Homo sapiens: one gene and its partners. The protein of the gene in region 1 purifies or fractionates together with the protein of each later gene. This does not show direct contact. Each region holds a gene or a part of one and is shown on either strand. Other genes may lie near its edges.

Region 1 (7,024 bases):
TTAACAGTTTCTTCTTTTACTCTCAAAACTGTTTAGGTTTGCGTAAAAAAATAATCAGGACATCCTAGTGAAAGAGGGTTTAGGGAAAAGTTTTGCTGATTTGAGTGGATAGGAGTCTTTCCTCAGTCTACCCCCAAAACTTCATGAAATCTACATCATCCATAGATGCTTTTGAAGTTGGGTTTGGGTGTTTTGGCCAGGCAGGGATGAGGACAAGGAGGCCCAGTCACATTTGGCCCAACACAGGGCCTGGCAGGGCCTGGCATACAGTCGGCACTCAATGGTGCATGGGGAGTGGCATATTATAACAGTAACATTGTTCAGTACCTCGTTTTTCCCCTGTGTAGGGGACCAGATCTTCTCGGTCCTTAAACTCCTTTGCTTGCTTTTCCAAGTGATCCAAGAGCTCCTCTCTTTTAAAGGGGCCCGTGGGCGCCTTGGTGGTCTGATCCTTCTGCCTCAGGCCTGCAGGCAGCAGTGCATTCTACATTGGAGGTTGTGGGGGGGCAGGAGAGAGAGAAAGAGAGAGAGAGAAAGAGAGAGTGGTCAGCTGCTGAAGACTTGCACTTCTCCAGAAACTCATCATCGAACAGAAGGGACCTCAGAGCTCATGGAATCCATGGTGTTCCTCGTTTTACAAGTAAGGAATCTGAAACCCCAGGACAGGGAGGGACTTGTCCAAGGTCAAAGGCAGACAAGGGGCAGAGAGAGGCTAGGACTCAGGTCTCAATCCTCCAGCCCATCCCTGCCTCTAACATTTTTGAAGGAGAGGAGGTGAGGGGTCAAGGCAGCCGACTCCAGTCTGAGCACAGAGGGCACTGAAAGAGCATCTGCTGAGTGATGAATATGATTGAGTTGTTGTTTGGATGCATAAAGATATTCACAGGAGTTGAGTTGAGTATCAGGTGGCTCCGGAGAGAGAAGAAGCCAAAAGAGGGTTAAGCTGGGGCCCTGGATGGAGAATCAGGCAGGAAGAGGCAGACCAAAAAAAAAGCTGGAGAAAGGCCCAGGAAAGCAGCGAGGTGAGCAGTGCCCTGCAGAGCTAAGAGGAGGACGGGGCATGCTCTCTGGCCACAGTCCCTGCTGGCCCTACCCGCTGCCTTCTAACCTCCTGACGGGTCTGTGCTCACAACACACTGGTGGTTAAATATTTTGAACGTCGCCCCTGGAGATGGGTATCTCAAGAAACATAACATCAACCAATTGTTCCCTTCTCTTCTTCAAACATAAGCAGGCTTCTAGGTGTGGGCTTACTGCTAAAGCAGATTCCTATTGGGGGGATTGGAGTTATCCTCATGGGCTTCACTTTAACTCAGCCCCCAGTACCTTAGGGAGTCAAAGAAGTTTATAGCTGCAAGGATGCTTAGAGATCATCAGTGCACACACTCTCCCATTAGGGGAACTGAGGCACAGAGCAAGGAAAGATTTGCCCAAGGAATTTCAGGACAGATCTAGAACAAAAACCAGCGTTCTTCTTCAGATTTACGAGAGGAGGATGACCATTTCTAATCGTTGTGTGCTCCCTGTTCCCTGCATTTGCAGAGCTAGAGGAATACATGGGTGGCTGGTATGGGCAGAACATCACCCAAAAGATATGCACCCTCAAACTGACTAAACTGAAGAGTCATTCCACCTCCAACCTTTTTTTTTTTTTTTTTGAGATGGACTCTCGCTCTGTTGCACCCAGGCTGGAATGCAGTGGCGCAATCTCGGCTCACTGCAACCTCTGCCTCCCAGGTTCAAGCGATTCTCCTGCCTCAGCCTCCTGAGTGGCTGGGATTACAGGTGCCTGACACCACGCCCGGCTAATTTTTTGTATTTTTAATAGAGACAGTGTTTCACCATATTGGCCAGGCTGATCTCGAACTCCCAAACTCAAGTGATCTGCCTGCCTTGGCCTCCCAAAGTGCTGGGATTACCGTTCCCAGCCCCACTTTCAATCTTTGTACCATTAAAATGCATATCTTCAGTCACTGTCACAAACTCCATATCCTTTTCTGAAAGCTGCCTCTGTGAGGGGACTGTTATCAGGGATATGAAGATCACTGTATGCCTGGCACATAGAGGGATACAGCTTGGGAGGGAATACTACTGTTTAAGGAATCTTTTTAATTTTTTTTACTTTTTTTTTTTGAGACAGAGTCTTTCTCTGTCACCAAGGCTGGAGTGCAGTGGTGTGATCTCGGCTCAATGCAACCTCCACCTCCCGGGTTCAAGCAATTCTTCTGCCTCAGCCTCCCGAGTAGCTGGGACTACAGGCGCATGCCACCACACCTGGCTAATTTTTGTATTTTTAGTAAAGACAGGGTTTCACCATATTGGCTAGGCTGGTCTTGAACTCCTGACCTCATGATCCACCCACCTCGGCCTTCCTAAGCCCTGGGATTACAGGCATGAACCACCACATCTGGCCTAACTAATGCATCATTTTTTAAAAGGTGTACTATGCATAACACCACAGTGCTGTTTCAGTAAGAGTAGTGGCTGTAAGATCAGGAGACCGGGGTGTGATCCTGCCTCTGGGAGGGCTGTAAGTGAGCAGGGCCCACCCAGCACAGAGCCCGGACAGACAGATAATGGGCTTGGCAGGTGGTGCTGGTGTACTTGCAGAGAGATTTAGGCCACAGATCAAAAGAGACACTGGGAGTTGGAGCTTTTTATGAGAGGACAGTAGGTAGAAAATCAAGGCCTGACTGACTTTGGGGTGGGGGGCATCAGGAACATAAGTGATGCTCCACACATCCCACTTTTCCTTAAGCAGCAGTTCTCAGATATTGTCCACCATGATAGGCAGGACAGGTGATGCTCCCAGGTGAGCCATGCTTCTGTGGGCATGTCCCAGGTTTGATGGGACTTCCTGTAGCTAGCTGTGTGTGCCCACGCCTTCTCTTCCACAGCAGGGAGCTTATGGTGATGCAAGAGAGTGAGACAATACCTCACTGCCCTGCAAACATCAATGTGTGACTACCCATAATGAATAATCCAAAGTCTTTGTGACATGCCTGCACTTCACAGTTGACCCTACATCAGGCTTAAGCCCTGACTTGGAGTAATAATGATACAACTACACAATCTTGGGCAAGTCCCCTAAATCTCATTGTGCCTCAGTTTCCATGGCTGTAAAATGTGAATAATGAGAGTTGCTCTCTCATAGAGTGGTTGAGAAAATTAAACTAGATAATGCAGAAAATGTGCTCAGCACAGTGCCTAACATAGTAAACGGTCAAAAATTATTACTTATGATCCCTTCTATTGTTATATAATCAGGTAGAATATATGTTAATAGGAGATTGGTTACCCAAATATGTATGTTTAACAGGGAATGTATTATCCAAATATAAATTCAAAAAACTAAAACACACAATTATAAAATGAATTAAGCAGTGAAAGCAAGTGCTCATGCTTCTTAAGGATCCCCACAGGGAAGGCCTACAGATTTTCATTACCATAAAGGGTTTTAATGGCAGTAAGATGCTGGGGCATGTTCTGGCCCCAGAAAGGCTAAGTATTGCGATAGAAGAAATTCAGGGGTTGTAACTGAGGGGAGAAGGGTTTGCAAACTCTCATCTCTTTTCGAATCTATCTGGTAGAGGCCACGGATTTAGTTAAAGCAGAGTTTCTCAACCTCAGCACAACTGACATTCTGGGCTGGACACTTCCTTGTTGTGGAGGCCACTCTACCCACTGGAGATTGTTTAGCAGCCTTTCTGCTCTCTATCTCCTAGATGCTAGTAGCACTGCCCCCAGTTGTGACAACCAAAAATGTCTCCAAACATTGCCACATTTCTTTTATTTTCTTCCTTTTTTTTTTTTTTTTTTGAGATGGAGTCTCACTTTGTTGCCCAGGCTGGAGTGCAGTGGCGTGATCTCGGCTCACTGCAACTTCTGCCTCCCGGGTTCAAGCAATTCTGTCTCAGCCTCCCCAGTAGCTGGGACTACAGATGCCCACCACCATGCCCGGCTAATTTTTGTATTTCTAGTAGAGGCGGGGTTTCACCATGTTGGTCAGGCTGGTCTTGAACTCCTGACCTCAGGTGATCCACCAGCCTCGGCCTCCCAAAGTGCTGGAATTATAGGCATTAGCCTCCATGCCCAGCCACCAAATTTCCTTTGAGGGGCAAAATTGCCCCTGATTGAGAGCCACTGCATTAAACAAAAAGCCATATAATTATAACATGTTATATAATACAGATTTTTTAATGTATTTCAAAAATATTATTTACATAACATAAAAATATGGCTTCATTTATTCAAGTCTTTATTGAAAGCAGTTGATTTGTAAAAACAAAAATGTCAAAGGCCTTTTCTAATAACTCTAAGCTTATCACATTTTTAAAGTAAATATTGAGAATATCAGCCTCATTAGAGGTTAAAGTTTGTTTTCTTTCTATTAAATGGTATGTTTAACAAAATATCACATGATTGTCAGTAAAACCAAAGATAGATGCATATTTTTAAACTCCTGATTGTTTACCACTTTAACTCGTTTTCAAAAACAGCATGTGATCTCCCATTATATATAAAAACTCAAAGTGAATCAAAGACCTAGATATAAGAACTACACTATAAAACATTTGGAAGAAAACATAGGCATAAATCCTTCTGATTCTGGATTAGGCAATGGTTTCTTAGATAAGATATCAAAGCAATAAGCAACAAAATAAAAAAGTAGATTACTTGGACTTCATTAAAATTAAAAACATTTGTGCTGCGAAGGACACTAGTGAGAAGACAAACCACAGATTGGGAGGAAATATTTGTAAATCATGTATCTCATAAGAGTTTCATATCTAGAATACATAAAAATCTCTTACAACTCAATAATATATGACAAATAACCCAATTTAAAAATGGGCCAGGCGTGGTGACTCACACCTGTAATCCCAGCACTTTGGGAGGCCAAGGTGGGTGGGTCACCTGAGGTCAGGAGTTTGAGACCAGCCTGGCCAACATGGTGAAACCCTGTCTCCACTAAAAATACAAAAATTAGCCGGGCGTGGTGGTGCATGCCTGTAATCCCAGCTACTCAGGAGGCTGAGACATGAAATTTGTTTGAACTCAGGAGGCAGAGGTTGCAGTGAGCTGAGATCACGCCGCTAGACTCCAGCCTGATCAACAGAGTGAGACTGTCTCAAAAAAAAAAATAAAAAATAAAAAATAAAAAATAAAAATGGTCAAGTGGCTGGGCACAGTGGCCCATGCCTGTAATCTCAGCACTTTTGGGAGGCTGAAGCAGGCAGATCACCTGAGGTCAGGAGTTCCAGACCAGCCTGGCCAACATGGCGAAACCCCGTCTCTACTAAAAATACAAAAATTAGCCGGGCATGGTGGCGCACATCTGCAGTCCCAGCTACACGTGAGGCTAAGGTGGGAGGATCCTTTGAACTTAGGAGGCAGAGATTGCAGTGAGCTGAGATTGTGCCAATGCACTCCAGCCTGGGTGACAGAGCTCCATCTCAAAAAAATAAAAATAAAAATAAATAAATTTTTTAAAATGGGCAAGTGATCTGGATAGACATTTTTCCAAAGATTATATAAAAATGGCCAAAAAGCTCATGAAAAAATGCTCAATACTATTATCCATTAGGGAAATGCAAATCAAATCCAGAATGAGATACCATTTCACAGCCAGCAGGATGGCAATAATAAAAAAACACAGATAATAACAAGTACTGATGAGAATATAGAGCAACTAGAACTCTCATACACTGCTGGTAGGAATGTAAAATGATACAACCCTTTTGGAAAATAGTTGTGCAATTTCTCAAAAAGTTAAACATAAAGTTACCATATGATGCAGCAGATGTATGTCCACCCAAATGCTTGTACACGAACATTTATAACAGCATTATTCATAATAACAAAAGTACGAACAAGTCTAATGTTCACCAGCTAATGAATGGATAAGACAAATGTGGTATACCCATACAATTGAATATTATCAGCTGTGAAAAAAAACGTAGTACTACAACGTGAATGACCCTTGAAAACATCATACTAAGTGTAAGAAGCCAGATACAAAAGGCCATGTATTATACAATTCCATACAATATATGAAACGTACAGAACAGTCAAATCTGTAGAGACAGAAAGTAGATTAGTGGTTGCCTAGGGCTGGTGTTATGGACTGGAATGTGTGCCTCCAACTCATACGTTGAAGCCCTCACCCCCAGAGTGACTATAATTGGAGACAGGGCCTGTAAGGAGATCATTAAAGTCAAATGAGGTCATAAGGGTGGAACCCTGATCTGATAGGATTGGTGTCCCTATAAGAAGAGATACCAGAGAGCTGCTGCAACACCTCCTTCCCCAACCAGTCACCGTGAGAACACACAGAGAGAAGCTGTTGTCTGTAAGCCAGCAAGAAAGTCTTTACCAGAAACTAACCCCTCAAGACCCTGATCTGGGACTTCTAAGCCTCCGGAATTGTGCAAAAATAAGTCTCTGTTGTTTAAGCCACCTAGTCTGTGGTATTTTGTTAGAGCAGCCTAAACAGGTTAATACAGCTGGGAAGGTTGAAGGGAGATGGAGAGTGACAGCTAATGGGCATGAGGTTTCTTTTTGAGGTGATGAAAATGTTCTAAAATTGATCATGATGGTTATACGACTCTGTGAATATGCTAAAAGAACAAACCAATGAATGGCGCATTTTTGTTTTCTTTTTCTTTTTTTCTTTTCTTTTTTTTTTTTTTTTTTTGAGACAGAGTCTCACTCTGTTGCCCAGGCTGGAGTGCAGTGGCATGATCTCGGTTCACTGCAAGCTCCGCTCCCCACCTCCAGGTTCACGCCATTCTCCTGCCTCAGCCTCCTGAGTAGCTGGGACTACAGGCGCCTGCCACCATGCTCGGCTAATTTTTTGTATTTTTAGTAAAGACGGGGTTTCACCATGTTAGCCAGGATGGTCTCGATCTCCTGACCTCGTGATCCGCCCGCCTCGGCCTCCCAAAGTGCTGGGATTACAGGCGTGAGCCACCTCACCCGGGCTGAATGGTGCACTTTAAGTGGATGATTGTATGCTATGTGA
Region 2 (7,031 bases), on another chromosome or scaffold:
ATGGTAGAAACAATAGCCAACACCACAGACATCTCAATTGGTTCAGCTTACATGATTCTGACCGAAAACAAAGTTGAGCAAAGTTCGCACTTGATGGATACCAAAACTGCTGCACCCAGATCAACTGCAGACAACAGCAGAGCTTTCGATGGAAATTCTAAACAAGTGAGATCAAGACCCTGAAGCATTTCTTTGAATTGTAACGGGATGAAATGTGGCTCTCCCAGTACAATCCTGAAGACAAAGCCCAATCAAAGCAAAGACTGCCAAGAGGTGGAAGAGGTCCAGTCACAGCAAAGATGGACTGGTTCAGAGCAGAGATCACAGCAACATTTTGGGGGAATGCTCAAGCCATTTTGCTTGTTGTCTTTCTAGAAGGCCAAATGATGAAGACATCTGCTTATTATGAGTGTCTTTAGGAAGCCAAAGCTTTAGCAGAAAAACACCCAGGAAACTTCACCAGAAAGTCCTTTTCTGCCACAACAATGCTCCTTCTCATTCCTCTCAAAGAAGAGCAATTTTGCAAGAGTTTCTGTGGAAAACTATTAGGCGTCCACCTCACAGTCCTGATTTGGCTCCTTCTGACTTTGTGTCCTAATCTTGAACTAAATGACCTGCATCTTTTCCAGTTAATAATGTAAAAGAGACTGCATTGACATGGTTAAATTCCCAGGACCCTCAGTTCTTTAGGGACGAACTAAGTGGCTGGTATAACTTAAAAAAGTGTCTTGAACTTGATGGAAACTGTGTTGAGAAATAAAGTTTATATTTTTAATCTTTTAACTCCATTTTTCCCCCACAAACTTTCCCCCTCATATAATACAGCAATTCAATATTGCCTGACAAAGGACTTTGACACATTGTAGGTATATTCAGTTGAGTCACTCCTTTTACTTAGGAGCACAAGTTGTATCTCCATGCACTTTAATGTAACAAAGCTTCGGCTCTTTGAGCACTCCAGTTCAGATTTTTCCCCTGCCTCACTGGCTTCCAGCCTCCAGTCCCAGCTCCTGAAAACCTAACCGGCTTCAGTGAAAGAACTGAAAGCTGAGCTTTTAGGGATCCTCCCAATACCTCCACAGCTAAGAGGGGTGGGGTGCCGTTCCAGGGCCAGGACTGTCACAGAGTTCACGCCCTGGCTCCCACCTCCTCCCCTCCTCCCCCAGAGGCCGTCGCCCATCCCTGATCGCTGCACAGGTGGCCCCTGGTGGGCTCGGAAGCTGTATTTGAGGCTGCTGCGGCCCCACCCCCAGCCAGGTGACAGCCTCCGCGGCCACCTTCCTGAGCATGAACTCATCCCGGCCCTGCTCCCCTCCAGGAGGAATGGGAGAGTTGAATAATTCCTCAAACTTAGAAGGGTGGCCAGCCCACGGAGCCGAAGGGCTCCCACATGGGCTAGACAGCCGCGTGTGATCGCCAGGTAAGGACGCGGAAGTGACTGTTCCTACCCAGCCCAGACCTGTTGGCCCGGGCGGGTGTCCCGGGAATCGCATACCCACGCAACGCGCGTGGACACCACACGCACACACAACTCTGCATGGAGGCGTGTGCATAGGCACTGTTAAACGTGTTTTGGCCACCCAAGAAGACGAACAGGAAAACCAGGCATTGGACTATCCAAAACTTGTTTTCTTAAAGGTGCATAGGGCACATGTGAAGAAAAGGCCTTTGCCCCTCTCACTACTGACTCCAGGTTGAAACTCGAGGGGTCCCGGGCGGCTGCAGCGCTGCCGCGAGCTCCCCTGGAAGCGGTGGCTTGTCCCTAACTTTAACCACAGCAACTGCTGCGGAACGCGGGCGTCTCCGCCCGGGCTGCACCTGTTCCCGATTCGGAGCACCCAGCCTCACACATCCCTTCTGACCTTGAAGGCATCCTGAAACTCACACCCTGCTCCCGGTTCGACTTTACTCCAACCCCCTCCCCGCAGTCACTGAAGCCCTCTTTGTACCAAAGAGGCCGCGTCAAAACATCCATCCCCAGCAAATTCACAATGCTCTTCCCTGGGGTCTCCGGAGATAACGGCGCACCCCTCTACCCATTGCTTACCCTCACTCCATCCAGCCGCCGCGCCCTCACGCCAGGTTGTCTCCTCCCTCTCCACCAAGTCCAGAACCCCCACCTCTCCCAAGTCCAGGGTTCCCTGTTGTGGGTATGCGGGAGGAAAGGACGCCTCGGAGGCGCGCCCTCGAGAGCCGGCGCCGCAGAGCCCCTGGGGTGGGGTCCACGGCGGGGACAGGGGACAGCAGCGGGAGCACCGCGGGGGCCCGTCCCGCGCACGGCGCTCAGAGCTGGCAGGGTCGCCCTGCCGTTCGGGGAACTCGGTTGGAGCCGAGCCCAGGCAACGAAAGTGAGGGGCGCGGCGGGGAGGGGGCGACAGCCCTGGCTTGGTGCTGAGCCGTGGCGCTGCGGAACCTCTAGGAGCCGGGTGGCCGGTCAGTGCGGGCGTTCCCGGAACCGCCAAACTTTCTCCGCCAACCGAAGTTAGGGACTCCGAGGACAGTGACGAGGAGGACACCGCGGAGGGGGGTCTCCCGTCACCTCCCGCCTCCAGTAGCCGAGGGAGAAGGCGACCCTGAGTACTAGGTGGCCCCGAGCGCGCCACCCCGGCCCCGGGGCGCCTCCCTCGCGGCCGCGCTCACCTGGCTGTAGAGCTCGCCCACCGACATGGCCCGGGCCGGGCGGGGCTCGGGCCCCGGCTCCTGGCTGCCCCGCGGCTCTCAGTCCGCGGCTGGCCCGCCTGGCGCCATGTTCCCGGGCTGGCCTGGAGTTTCTCGATCTTCTCGCTCTTCTCCGACCTGCCCCGCCGGCTTCCCGCAGGCGCCGCGGCCGGCTCGCTCCCGGCGGCGCGACCTTTACTCCCGCCGCGGCGGCGCAGCTACGGCCGGACAGGAGTTGCGAGCGCCGGGGGAGGAGGCCGCGCCGCACCACTCCCCTCCCAGGTGTGGGGAGGAGGCGAGGGCCGGCGAGGAGGGAGGACCCGCTCGCGTCAGAGCGGACGGCCCGTGCGCCGCCGCGCCTCTGAGCCCTGCCGGTGCCCGGCCCGACGCGCCCTCCCGCGCCCCCGCTGCCACCTGGGCCTCCGGGCCGGGGGCGGGGCGCTCAGAGAGGAGCTCCGGGACCGGCGCGGGCCGCCCCCTGCTGGACGCCGCGCGCGCGCAGGCACAGGTGCGCCCCGGCGCCCGCACCTGCCCTGCCGCGCTCCGCTTCCACCCGCACCGGGCCCCGCGGAGTCCGGCATGAACGCGGTGCAGACAAGAAAAGGGAAGAGGAACTAACCAGAGAGGGGGGAAAAAAGAGAAGCGTCTATGGCTGGAAGGCCCCAGACATTGCCCTCGATTTTACCTGGCTGTATTCAGCGCTTTCATGATTAAAATTCAGTTACTCGTAGATCGTTATTAAGGCGACCTGGATATACATACACCAGGGATCTTCTCCTTCAAACTGAACTCTCTGCGCGGAAATCCTTGTCAGTAAAGTGGGAGTCGTAACTCCTTCTGTACAAATATTGTCCACTTTCGCCCACAGCCTCCAAGGAGACTCCAGGCCACTCATCTCAGAGGGCTTCTGCTTTTCCGGGAAGTCTCACGTTCTCCCAACCCCCGTCTCGTCTACATGCAGACTCCGGGTCCTTTTGCCACTCACTACCTCGTTTATTTGTGTTCCCTCTCTGACCATGGCACTTGGCTGCCTGCAGCAACTTCAGCTCCTCTCCTACTTCCAGTGAAAAGTAGAAATTTCAACCAAGAAAAAAAAAAAAAAACTGCCAGAAGTCTGTGGAGGGAGACGAGGGGCTGTCAGAGGAGACACTCCCTTCTGAAGCTGACATCTGTCCCTGACCCAGGGGTGGCCCCTGAAAAGTGGTTCTCAACCGGAAGATATATCTGTACCAGCCGGGGCAGTTGTTCAAGAGCCCCAGAAGGTGATTCTCAGAGGCATCCCACCTGGAACTCAAGATCCCGTTGTAATTCACCTGTGCAGGCCTTCCCATGGGCACCTCCACAATGAGAGTCACATGGGGAGCTTTAAGCGTTCCAAGGAAGAGGCCCCAACCCAAGGAATTCTGATATAATGAAGGATGGGACCTGGGTATCCCAATTTTTAAAGCTCCTCTGAAAGTCTAAAGGATGGTACTTCCAGGGTGACAAATGCATTGACCAAAGCTTGGGCGGCTCTCATTGGACCTAAAAATGGAACTCTTCACATCAGTGGCAAGAGCAGAAAGGGATTTTTTTCTCTTCCTCAAAAGTTTTTCTGCATATTTCCCTTCCCCGGATTCCTGTAGCTCTTAAAGTGTGTCCCCACCCCCCACGCCCACCATCAGCATCACCTGGTAACTGTTAGAAATACAAGTTATTGGGCTCCACTGCAGACCTACTGAACCATAAACTCTGGTGTGGGGCCAGTACTCATTGTTCTTTCTGCCTCCAGGTGATTCTCCCCTTTTTGAATAAGAAAGTCATCAGTCCTGCCTAGATCCTGGCCTCTTCCTCCACCACCATTAGTGGTCCCATCTCTCTACCAGCAACTCTTCCTCTCTCCACTGGCCCCTGGCTTTTTGTGTTTTCCTCTCCTGCTAAACTTCTTAAAGCAGTAGCTTCACTTATTTAGCTATCTCCACTTACGCCCAGTACCTCCTTAATTCTCTGATTCTCAACACTTTATGCACATCAGAATCACTTTTGAAACAAGTGGATGTCTGGTTCCCACTCCCAGAAATTCTGATTTAACTTGTCTGGGGGGTGTTGCCCTGGGTGAAAGGATTCTGAAGAGCTCCCAGATGGTTCTAATGGCAGCCAAGTTTAAGAGCTGCTGTTCTGGCCGGGTGTGGTGGCTCATGCCTATAATCCCAGCACTTCGGGAGGCCAATGTGGGCCGATCACTTGAAGTCAGGAGTTCAAGACCAGCCTGGCTAACATGGTGAAACCCCGTCTCTACTAAAAGTACAAAAATTAGCTGGGCGTGGTGGCGCATGCCTGTAATCCTAGCTACTTGGAAGGCTGAGGCAGGAGAATCGCTTGAACCTGGGAGGTGGAGGTTGCAGTGAGCCGAGACCACACCACTGCACTCCAGCCTGGGTGACAGAACAAGACTCCATCTTTAAAAAATAATAAATAAATAAATAAATAAATAAATAAATGTTGCTGTTCTAATTTCTTCTTATTTGGCTTCCACTCAGACCTATCCTATTGAAATTGCCTCATCACTGTGAAGCATGGGGTGGGAATTGATTCAACCCATTACGTTAAACCATCTCTTCCCTGAGTACTATTTTTCTCTTGTTTTCTCAGCCTCTCTAACCAAACCTTCTCAACATTATTTTCTAGGCCTGCGTCCTCTTCCTGGTTTCTGAATAAAACTATGCTCCATTTCAGAGATCTCATCTTTCTTCTCAGCCACGCCCCCATTTTGTCTCTTGCTCACAATGCTAATTCTCAAATCTAATTCTAACCTTACTCAAGATCCACCTTTCCACCTGCAGATAGGCAATGGTAACAATGCCACTTGGACCTCGGACCAACCTGACATTCATTTGTTTCCATCCTTTCTCCCCACCCGTAACTGGTTCCAACTGTCTGGCTTCCATCACACCTGGCACAAATGAAAAGCTCAATTCATGTTAACTGAACTGAATCGCATTCCTGAGTCCTACACTTGGCCAGAGCTTTGTGAATTTCTAATTCCACAATCAGATATGGTGTTTCCCTCCTTTGAACAATAAAGACATTTTAAAACTTACTTGATCCAGGAAACATACCAAGCGCTTTACTTCTGTGATCCTGTTGAAGCCTCAGAGCAACCTTATAAAGGAGGTTCAGAATATTAAGGCTGTTTCACAGATGGGCAAAGTGAGGCTTAGGGAAGAAGGGTGTGAAAAACACTCTAGGTCAGACAGCTACTGTTCAATTAAAGTCTCACTCGAGCGTCTAACCCTTGCTTTTTATGTCAATGGATGTTGAACTTCAGTGTGTACCAGGATTAAGGGGCTATCAGGGGATGTTAATTCAGTTGGTCAGAGACATGATCAATGAGTCTGAATTTTTTTTTTTTTTTTTTTTTGAGATGGAGTTTTGCTCTTGCTGCTCAGGCTGGAGTGCAGTGGTGCCATCTCAGCTCACCGCAACCTCCGCCTCCCGGGTTCAAGCGATTCTCCTGCCTCAGCCTCCCGAGTAACTGGGATTATAGGCATGCGCCACCATGCCTGGCTGATTTTGTATTTTTAGTAGAGACGGGGTTTAGCAGAGATGGATCAACCTCAGGTGATCTGCCCACCTTGGCCCCCAAAGTGCTGGGATGACAGACGTGAGCCACCATGCCCGGCCTATGAGTCTGCAAATTTAATACATATCCCAGGTGGTGTAGGGCCCACACTTTGAGAAACATTGCTCTGTGCTCCACGGCTTCTCAAAGTAAAAAGAAGATACCTGTTGGAAATGCCTTAGTCTCCTTCCTGACAGGTGAGGATTTCCCTCACACAAATAATAAAAAGTGAACTTCCAAGGCATTCATTTGCACCCTGTATGATATGTGAACTAATATCCCTTTCTCCTCCTCACCACTAGGTTCTAAGAGTCTTGAGGGCAGGGACCACACCTGATCCATATTTGTGTCCTCTGCACTTCCTAGAACATGACTTGCACAAAGTTGATCACAGTAAATAGTAGGTAAATAGAGATATGTTTTGAGCCAAGTCTTAAAGGAAGTACTGCTCATTAATTAGTGGAAAAGAGAAAATAAAGGGATTACTAAACAGAAAAATTTGCATAAGCAAAGAAAGAGAGGAGGGATTCCACTAAGAAGAAGGCTTCTTATTCACTGGCCCTTCTGTGAAAGCGGTTTATAAACTATACAGTGACAGTTAAAATTATTTTCTTATGGGCTGGACACAGTGGCTCATACCTGTAATCCCAGCACTTTGGGAGGCTGAGGCGGATCACTTGAGGTCAGGAGTTCACAACCAGCCTGGCCCACATGGTGAAACCCCATCTCTACTAAAAATACAAAAATTAGCATGCCTGCAGACCCAGCTACT
Region 3 (6,864 bases), on another chromosome or scaffold:
TCAAAATGCCACTTCCTCCAGGAAGCCACTTCTGAGACCACTGGCCGGCTGTGATTCTCTCTCATGTCCAAACCTTCAGAACACTGTCTACGCCCTTTTTATATCAGATCCCTTCCTGTCTTCGGTTAGCATTATTGATCTACAGGTGTCAACCCCTTTCTGACCCAACTCCTGGAGGGCAGGCAGGTCCTCGCCGGGTTCCTCCCTGACTCTCCAGTCTCCCCAGGACAGGAATTTGGATACCATGGCTTGTATCTGTTGAGTCAATGAGTGAATAAGAAAGTACTGAACCCAAGACGATTTTGTTGATTTCTATAAGAACCCTGATGAATTCAAGGAGTAGATATTTGCCATTTGAATAGTGATTTTCATTTTCACAGTTGAGAAATAGAAGTTAATTTGTACTAAAACATAAGATGTCACACCTGCTCCCTCCAACCCTATCAATCTGTGCTACTCAGCACTAGTAACAGCTGCACCTACGGCTGGGTTTTACCGGGAGGGGCGTGTAAGAAGCTCTCATATTTACCCACCGCCTAGTTACATACTTTACATTGCTACCCACTTTCTTTAATTCTGACAGCCAGGGGAGGTTTCTTCTTCTCCATTTTAGAGACGAGAAAACAGAGGCCCAGAGAAGAGTGAGTAACTCACCTTCCTAGGATGGCACAGCTGGCTAAGAACTATGTCATTTGAAAGCCCAGCTCTGACTCACAAGTCTATCTCTGTAACTCCAACTGCATCTCCCTCGGTGGGAGGGAGGACCTCAGGGCTCTCAACCCAAGGAGTGTTCCCTTGCCTTCCTTTTCAATCTATTTTATAAAAACCAGCAGATAGGCTGGGCGCAGTGGCTTACGCCTGTAATCCCAGCACTTTGAGAGGCCAAGGCGGGAAGATCACTTGAGGCCAGGAGTTTGAGACCAGCCTGGCCAACACGGTGAAACCCCGTCTCTATTAAAAATACAAAAATTAGCCGGGTGTGGTGGTGCGTGCCTGTAATCCCAGCTACTGGTGAGGCTGAGGCAGGAGGATCTCTTGAGCCTGGGAGGTGGAGGTTGCAGTGAGCCGAGATCATACCACTGTACTCCAGCCTGGGCAACAGAGTGAGACTGTGTTAAAAAAAAAAAAAAAAAAAAAAAAGAAGAAAGAAACACCAGTGGATAAAAGGCAAACTCTGGAAATTTTCATTCTTCTCATTCTTCTGCCCCATAACCACTGACATCAAGACAAGGCTTGCGATTCACTGGCCACCTCTGGCCCTTGCAGGGAACACTTGTAAGGCACTGTGGTCAAATGCATACATAAGTGACTGTCTTCACAGGAGGGAGTTATACTCAAGCTACTATATTTAGCAAATGTCTATATTTAGCCAAAGGTCCTTTAAATGCCTTGTACTTCTTTTGTTTATTAATTAATGTAACAGACATAGACAAACACCTAGTATGTGCCTGGCTCTGTGCTGAGCTCTTGGGATACAAAAGTAAGATATTTCCTGTCTGGGTGTCACCTTCTACAGGTGGACAAATAATGATAAGGTATCCTGACTGCCATGCCAGGCGCGGGCATGCCATGGAGGGCCGTGGAGCCAGGGAGACTTAGGCCTGGTGCGATGTGAGAGGGCTGAGTCTGGAAGGTCTCCTGGAGGTCACAGTGGGCTTCCAGGAATGAATAAGGGTTTGCCTGGAAAGCCCTTTTCTGTATCATACAGAGAAAAACAGAAGTCTTTATTCACTCAGTAGTCAACAAATACTGAGTGACTGCCACATGTCCGTAAGAGCAAAATCAGGTATTTACAACTACAAACACCTAAGGATTGGTTACAGAGTAGATCCCCCAGAATATCTGACGGATACAGCCAGACACCACAGTCCAAATGGCTTGGAGGTGTTTCCTGTGGGAAGAATCACATGTGGAAAAGCCAACACGGAAAAGAACCTGTAAGGCGGGTTACAAGGCAGAGACTTTCTTTGCATTCATACACCCACCTGGCACACAGTTCAAATGGTACAAAGGGAACACAGTCAAAAATTAAGCTTCCTTTGTCCCCCTGGGGCCGCAACCTATTGGCTCCCCTTTTCCCAAGCTGCTGCTCTCTGTCCCTGTACGGCTTTCTGGATGTCATGTACATTCTTTAGCCTTAAGGTAGAATCCTTGCGGAAGGAAAAAAAAAAAGGCATTTGTACAAATACCCATTCTAGTGCGCCTTCAATTTGTCACAGGTAAAGTTCATCACCAAACATGATCTTAGTTACAATAAACTCTGTCCAGGAAACTTTAATGAAGACGTTTCAGTGTGCCTGGACCCGTTTCCAGGCTCAGTCCTGAAAGAAAAATCACAGTGATCCCCAAGTTCATCTCTGAGCTGCACCTTGAGTGACATCGATGGATGGATGACAAATGGTCACCTGAGCGACTCGGCCATTTCAGCAGGGCCATGTGGCCTCCGGCGACCGTCCACTGCCTCCAGGTCGGGCCTAAGCCCCCGCCTCCTCCCATGCCGCACAACAAAGCGGGGCGCTCGCCCCCACCCGGCCAGCCCGGGCCACCTCGCGCGCTGGCGGCGCCCGGCTCCTCTCCCGAGGGCGCAGCGGCCGACGGTGGCCGGGGTGGGGGAGGGCGCGCAGCGTCGCGGGCTGGGCCCGGGGCTGGAGAACGGGTGCGGGGTCCGCAGGCCTCGGAGATCGGGGCCGGGGCGCAGCGCCTGGGGATCAGCGCCCCGGCGCGCGCCTGCCCGGCCCACCCGCCTGGAGCCGGACGCGCAGTGGCACAGACGCACAGCGGGACAGACGGACGCCGGAGAGACCCTGACAGCCGTCCGGCCCCCGCGCCCGCCCGGCGCCCCCCGGCTGCCCTCCCGGAGCGCTCACCTCCCGCGCGATCTGGTTGAGCGCGTCGTCCTCCGCCGTGAGCCGCTCCCGGTTGGGGAGCCGCTTGCGCCCCGATCCCTGGGTGCCCATGTCCATCGACCGCGTCGCCCGCAGCTGCCGCGGGGCCCGTTGCTCCAGCCGCTCGCGCCGCCCCGGCCCGGCCCCGGCCCCGGCCCCTCCCTCCGCCGCGGCGTCATGGCGTCAGCGGGCGCTGGGCCGGGGACGCGGGGACGCGGGGGGACGGGGGCCGCGGGGACCCGGGGGAAGCCAGAGCCGGAGGTCCGCAGCGCGGGCCAGGGACTGCAGGGGCCAGGGACGGCGGGGCGGGGGACGGGGGCGGGGGGCGGAGACGCCAGGTGTCAGGGACGATGGGGGTCCGATACCACGGGGACGCTGCGGATGCCCAGGGCCGGGCACGCGGGACCTGAGGGACCGGGAGCCCCGGAGGGTGGACTTTGCGGGGACTGTTTGGCGGGCCGGTAATCGCGGAGCGACGCGCGCCAGGGCGGTGGGCACCGGTTGAGTGGGGACCTGAGCGGAGAGCGGGGGGGTAGGAAGGCTTTCAGAGGCCTGAGTTGCCTTGAGGGGTTTGCACGGAGGGGTGAGCACAGGATTTGGTTCAGCCTGGCGCTCCCCATTCCGCGGTGAGTCGGGGTGGAAGTCCCTCGCCGGGGTGAGAGCTAGGCTCTGGGGTCAGGCCGAGAGGTGCTCGGATCCGCCCGCCACCGCCGCTCCTGTGACCTTGGCCAGCCTCCTGGGCGCCGGCTTCACAGCGGCATGGTGTGGATGTGTGCGTTTCTGTCTTTACACGCGTGTTCTCCGTGCTAGCATCCATCCTTCTCCCCGCTGTCTGCCCCCTGAGATCAAGGACTTGTCACTTCTCTGGTGGGTCCCCAGCCTCTAGGATCGGGGCAGGTGCGTCGCAGCTCTCTCCTAGTTGTTGAAAAAGTAATGAACTTACCTGTGCTCTCTGAAGCTCACAGTCTATGCTCCAGAGGTGGATTTAAAAGTAAAGCAAATCGGAGGATTAGGTAGGGGTTAAAAGCCCCTGCCTAGGGCACGGCAGGAGCACCGGGTGGGAAAGTTACTGGTGTGTTTGGGGTATGGGGAGAACTTCAGTGTGGCTGGACCTGGGGAAGGATGGGAGGGAGGGTAGTGATGGTAGAGGAGAGGAGGCTGTACTGAAGTCACCTGTGATTTTTTTCCCCCAGTGATAAGGACAGTTAACATTTCGGTGTATTTCCCACCAAGTGGTGTGACCAGATTGCTTTGGATTCTTAAGGAGGTGGCCTGGAAGCTGTATGAAGGTGGGAAGAGGAAGAGGGCCCTTCCACCCACAGTGGCAGGGAAAGCTGTTGGAGGTTTCATTGCAGGGAAAAGACAGCGAGTCCAGTGACATGGGAGGGAGGGCAGATCCAGGTGACATTGCTCTGGGTGCCTGAGCTGACGCAGGTGGGTTGGCAGGGCTGACTGTGGCATTGTTCATGACTGAACTCCGGGAGCAGAAACTGCACCTGCACATTGTAGGCACTAAGGAAATAGGTGTTGACTGAATCTTCCAGGCCATATTTACATTACTTCAGAGGCCATACTCCTTAAGTGACATAGTCCTCCTTGGGGGAAACCTTGAGCCGTGGCCACTTGCACTGCCTTGGTCTTGCTGGTGGCTGCTCACTGTTTCCCAGCCCCTGGGGCACTGTGGGGACTGTGCGTCTTTGCCGAGGCTGGTCCCCATGAGTTCACTCATTCCTGCACCCACACCTGCTGCCTGCCAGCTGCTGAGCTGGAGGCTGGGGCATAGCTGTCCGAGAGGCAGACACGGCTGCTGCCTCTCAGGGCTGACTTGAGATGCCTGGAGCTCCTTAACTAAAGCCATATCCAAGTTCCAACGTCTCCTTTCTAAAAGAAGTCTCCCTTTGCTCCCTGTCCTTCATTGGAACTTTGAGCCACTTTTTGCTAACACCTAAATCCTCCATCCTGATGTGTTGAGGCCAGGAGGGCAGGCGCTGACCCCATCTTCCTCATCTTTAAGCCTTCACCAGGGACTGGCTGTGCCAGTTGCTTAGTGGAGTGCAGTGGTTGAACTTGTGGAACAGAGTTCAGTTCCCAACCCTCCTCCCCACTTTCCCTGTTGGATTGTTGTCCAGAGACAGGAGATTCACTGCCGTGGGGACTGGCCAGAGGTGTGTCTGAACAGCTCCCGCTGGTAGACAGTGTTCTCGGACACTGTGGTGAATTCAGCTTCCTGCCCCTCCCCCATCATCTGTCCACTTCCAGAAAAGAGCCGCCTTTCAGAAATCATCAGAAACAACATTGCTGGGTCCTCCCATGACCCCATGACATAACAACTTCCTGGCTACAGTCCTCTTCCCCTGGCGATGTGCTCTCAGAGTGGACCGGTTCTCACTTCAGAGTCAGTTTCCGCCTCTAAATGGAAATACGGGTGCCCACTGTCTTAGTTCCTTTGTGCTGCTGTAACAGAACGCCTTAGACAGGGTCATTTATAAAACCACGGAAATGTATTGTTCACAGCTGTGGAGGCTGGGAAGTCCAGCATCAAGCCTCCAGCAGAATCAGTGTCTGGTTGAGGCCCATTCCTCACAGATGGTGCCTTCTGTGTGTCATCTCATGGTGGAAGACGGGCTCCCTCCAGGCTTTTGTGTAAGGGCACTCATCGCGTTCATGAGGTCTCTGCTTCAGGACCTGGTCACCTGCAGGCCCCACCTTGCATTGAGGGTTAGGTTTTGACATATGAATGGGGGGGCCACCGCCATCCAGACCATGGCCTCTACCTTGTCAGGGTAGGGACAGTATTCTAGGCAAGAGCCCTTCCAGGGCTTCACACACAGGCAATCGATCAATCATCCTTACAGCTCCTGTCCTCAAAGGCCCAGGTCTGGAATGAATGGTGAACAGCAGTTCCTGTCTGGGCAGAGGGGAGCTAGACAGAGGTATCAGGCAGCTTGGTGGGTCTTCTCCGTGCTTGGGGTGCCTCCTGGAGGAAGATAAAGACCTGCAAGACTCCATCATGCTGATCCATGGGTTCACCGAAAAATTGTGGCTTTTCCTCCACCCTTGACCGTCGGCCCTCCCTGCGTGGAAGTGCATGAGCCTGTTTCCACTGAGAAGACTGGCCTCTGCCACCAGCACTACTGACCCCTCCCATCTAGCCCTTTTCCTATTCCAGATGGTGACACTACCCACCAGGGCTTACTTCAGAGCAGGAAATTGAGAAACTATATCACAGATCTGATGTCCAGGGCCAGAGAATTAACATGTTCATCTCCAAGCCTGGTACCAAGTCCCTTCACAAAAATACAGATGCCACCTTCAGGAAGCCTCCACGAGAAAGTGGAGGCAGCCAGGGAAGCCTTGGCAAGGGAAACCACACAGCGGCGCCGTCCCCAGCGCAAGTTTGCCTTGGTTCAGGAGCTCAGTGGGCAAGCCCTGGGGGCTGGCTGGGAAAGGAAGTTGATGAGCAGCTACGGAGGGGCGTCCAGTCTGCATGAGGACTCAGAGCTTCTCAGGCAGAGAGCCATCTGAGCCATCATGTGGGCCATAACGTGACTCACTCTGGGTCCATTGAGAGCATCATCCGCGTGGGCCTACCTCAAACCTCTTTCACCAGCACTCCAGCCTTGCTCTTCCAGTTCCCAGAGGATGGAAAGCCCTGCTTTGGATTACAGCTGGAGCAGGGCAGGAGAACTGCAGCCCCCCCCCAGGAATGCTGAAGGACCCGTAGAGGAGAGCCATCTCTCACGCATGGAACTTGGAGCCAGCACTCTGCCCAGAAGTGGGGCTGGCTGAGGTCAGGGTCTATGTGTTGCTCAGGAGGTGAATGGTGTCTCCTTTGTCCTGCTGGACGTTTTCAGGTGCATCTTTCAGTAGCTCAATCACAGCACTTCCAAAATAAATCAGTGGATGATGCCTGCCCCAATAAATGCCTCTTCCTTCCCAGGACACCATCACTTCCAGTAACTTTTTCATGTTTTTTGGA

What was found. The genes of interacting proteins can lie anywhere in the genome.
Region 2: the proteins of TMOD1 (region 1) and MYO5B purify together in Homo sapiens (affinity purification with mass spectrometry; 4 studies listed by BioGRID and IntAct, with this or other methods). This does not show direct contact.
Region 3: the proteins of TMOD1 (region 1) and LRRFIP1 purify together in Homo sapiens (affinity purification with mass spectrometry; 4 studies listed by BioGRID and IntAct, with this or other methods). This does not show direct contact.

What each region holds. Positions count from the first base shown.
Region 1 is NC_000009.12:97,539,645-97,546,668, reverse strand, and holds part of TMOD1 (tropomodulin-1), read right to left. Parts: intron 485-7,024; coding exon 328-484; intron 1-327. UniProt on the Homo sapiens protein: Blocks the elongation and depolymerization of the actin filaments at the pointed end. The Tmod/TM complex contributes to the formation of the short actin protofilament, which in turn defines the geometry of the membrane skeleton.
Region 2 is NC_000018.10:50,192,127-50,199,157, forward strand, and holds the start of MYO5B (unconventional myosin-Vb), read right to left. Parts: upstream 3,022-7,031; 5' UTR 2,668-3,021; coding exon 2,641-2,667; intron 1-2,640. UniProt on the Homo sapiens protein: May be involved in vesicular trafficking via its association with the CART complex. The CART complex is necessary for efficient transferrin receptor recycling but not for EGFR degradation.
Region 3 is NC_000002.12:237,623,744-237,630,607, reverse strand, and holds the start of LRRFIP1 (leucine-rich repeat flightless-interacting protein 1), read right to left. Parts: upstream 3,022-6,864; 5' UTR 2,964-3,021; coding exon 2,868-2,963; intron 1-2,867.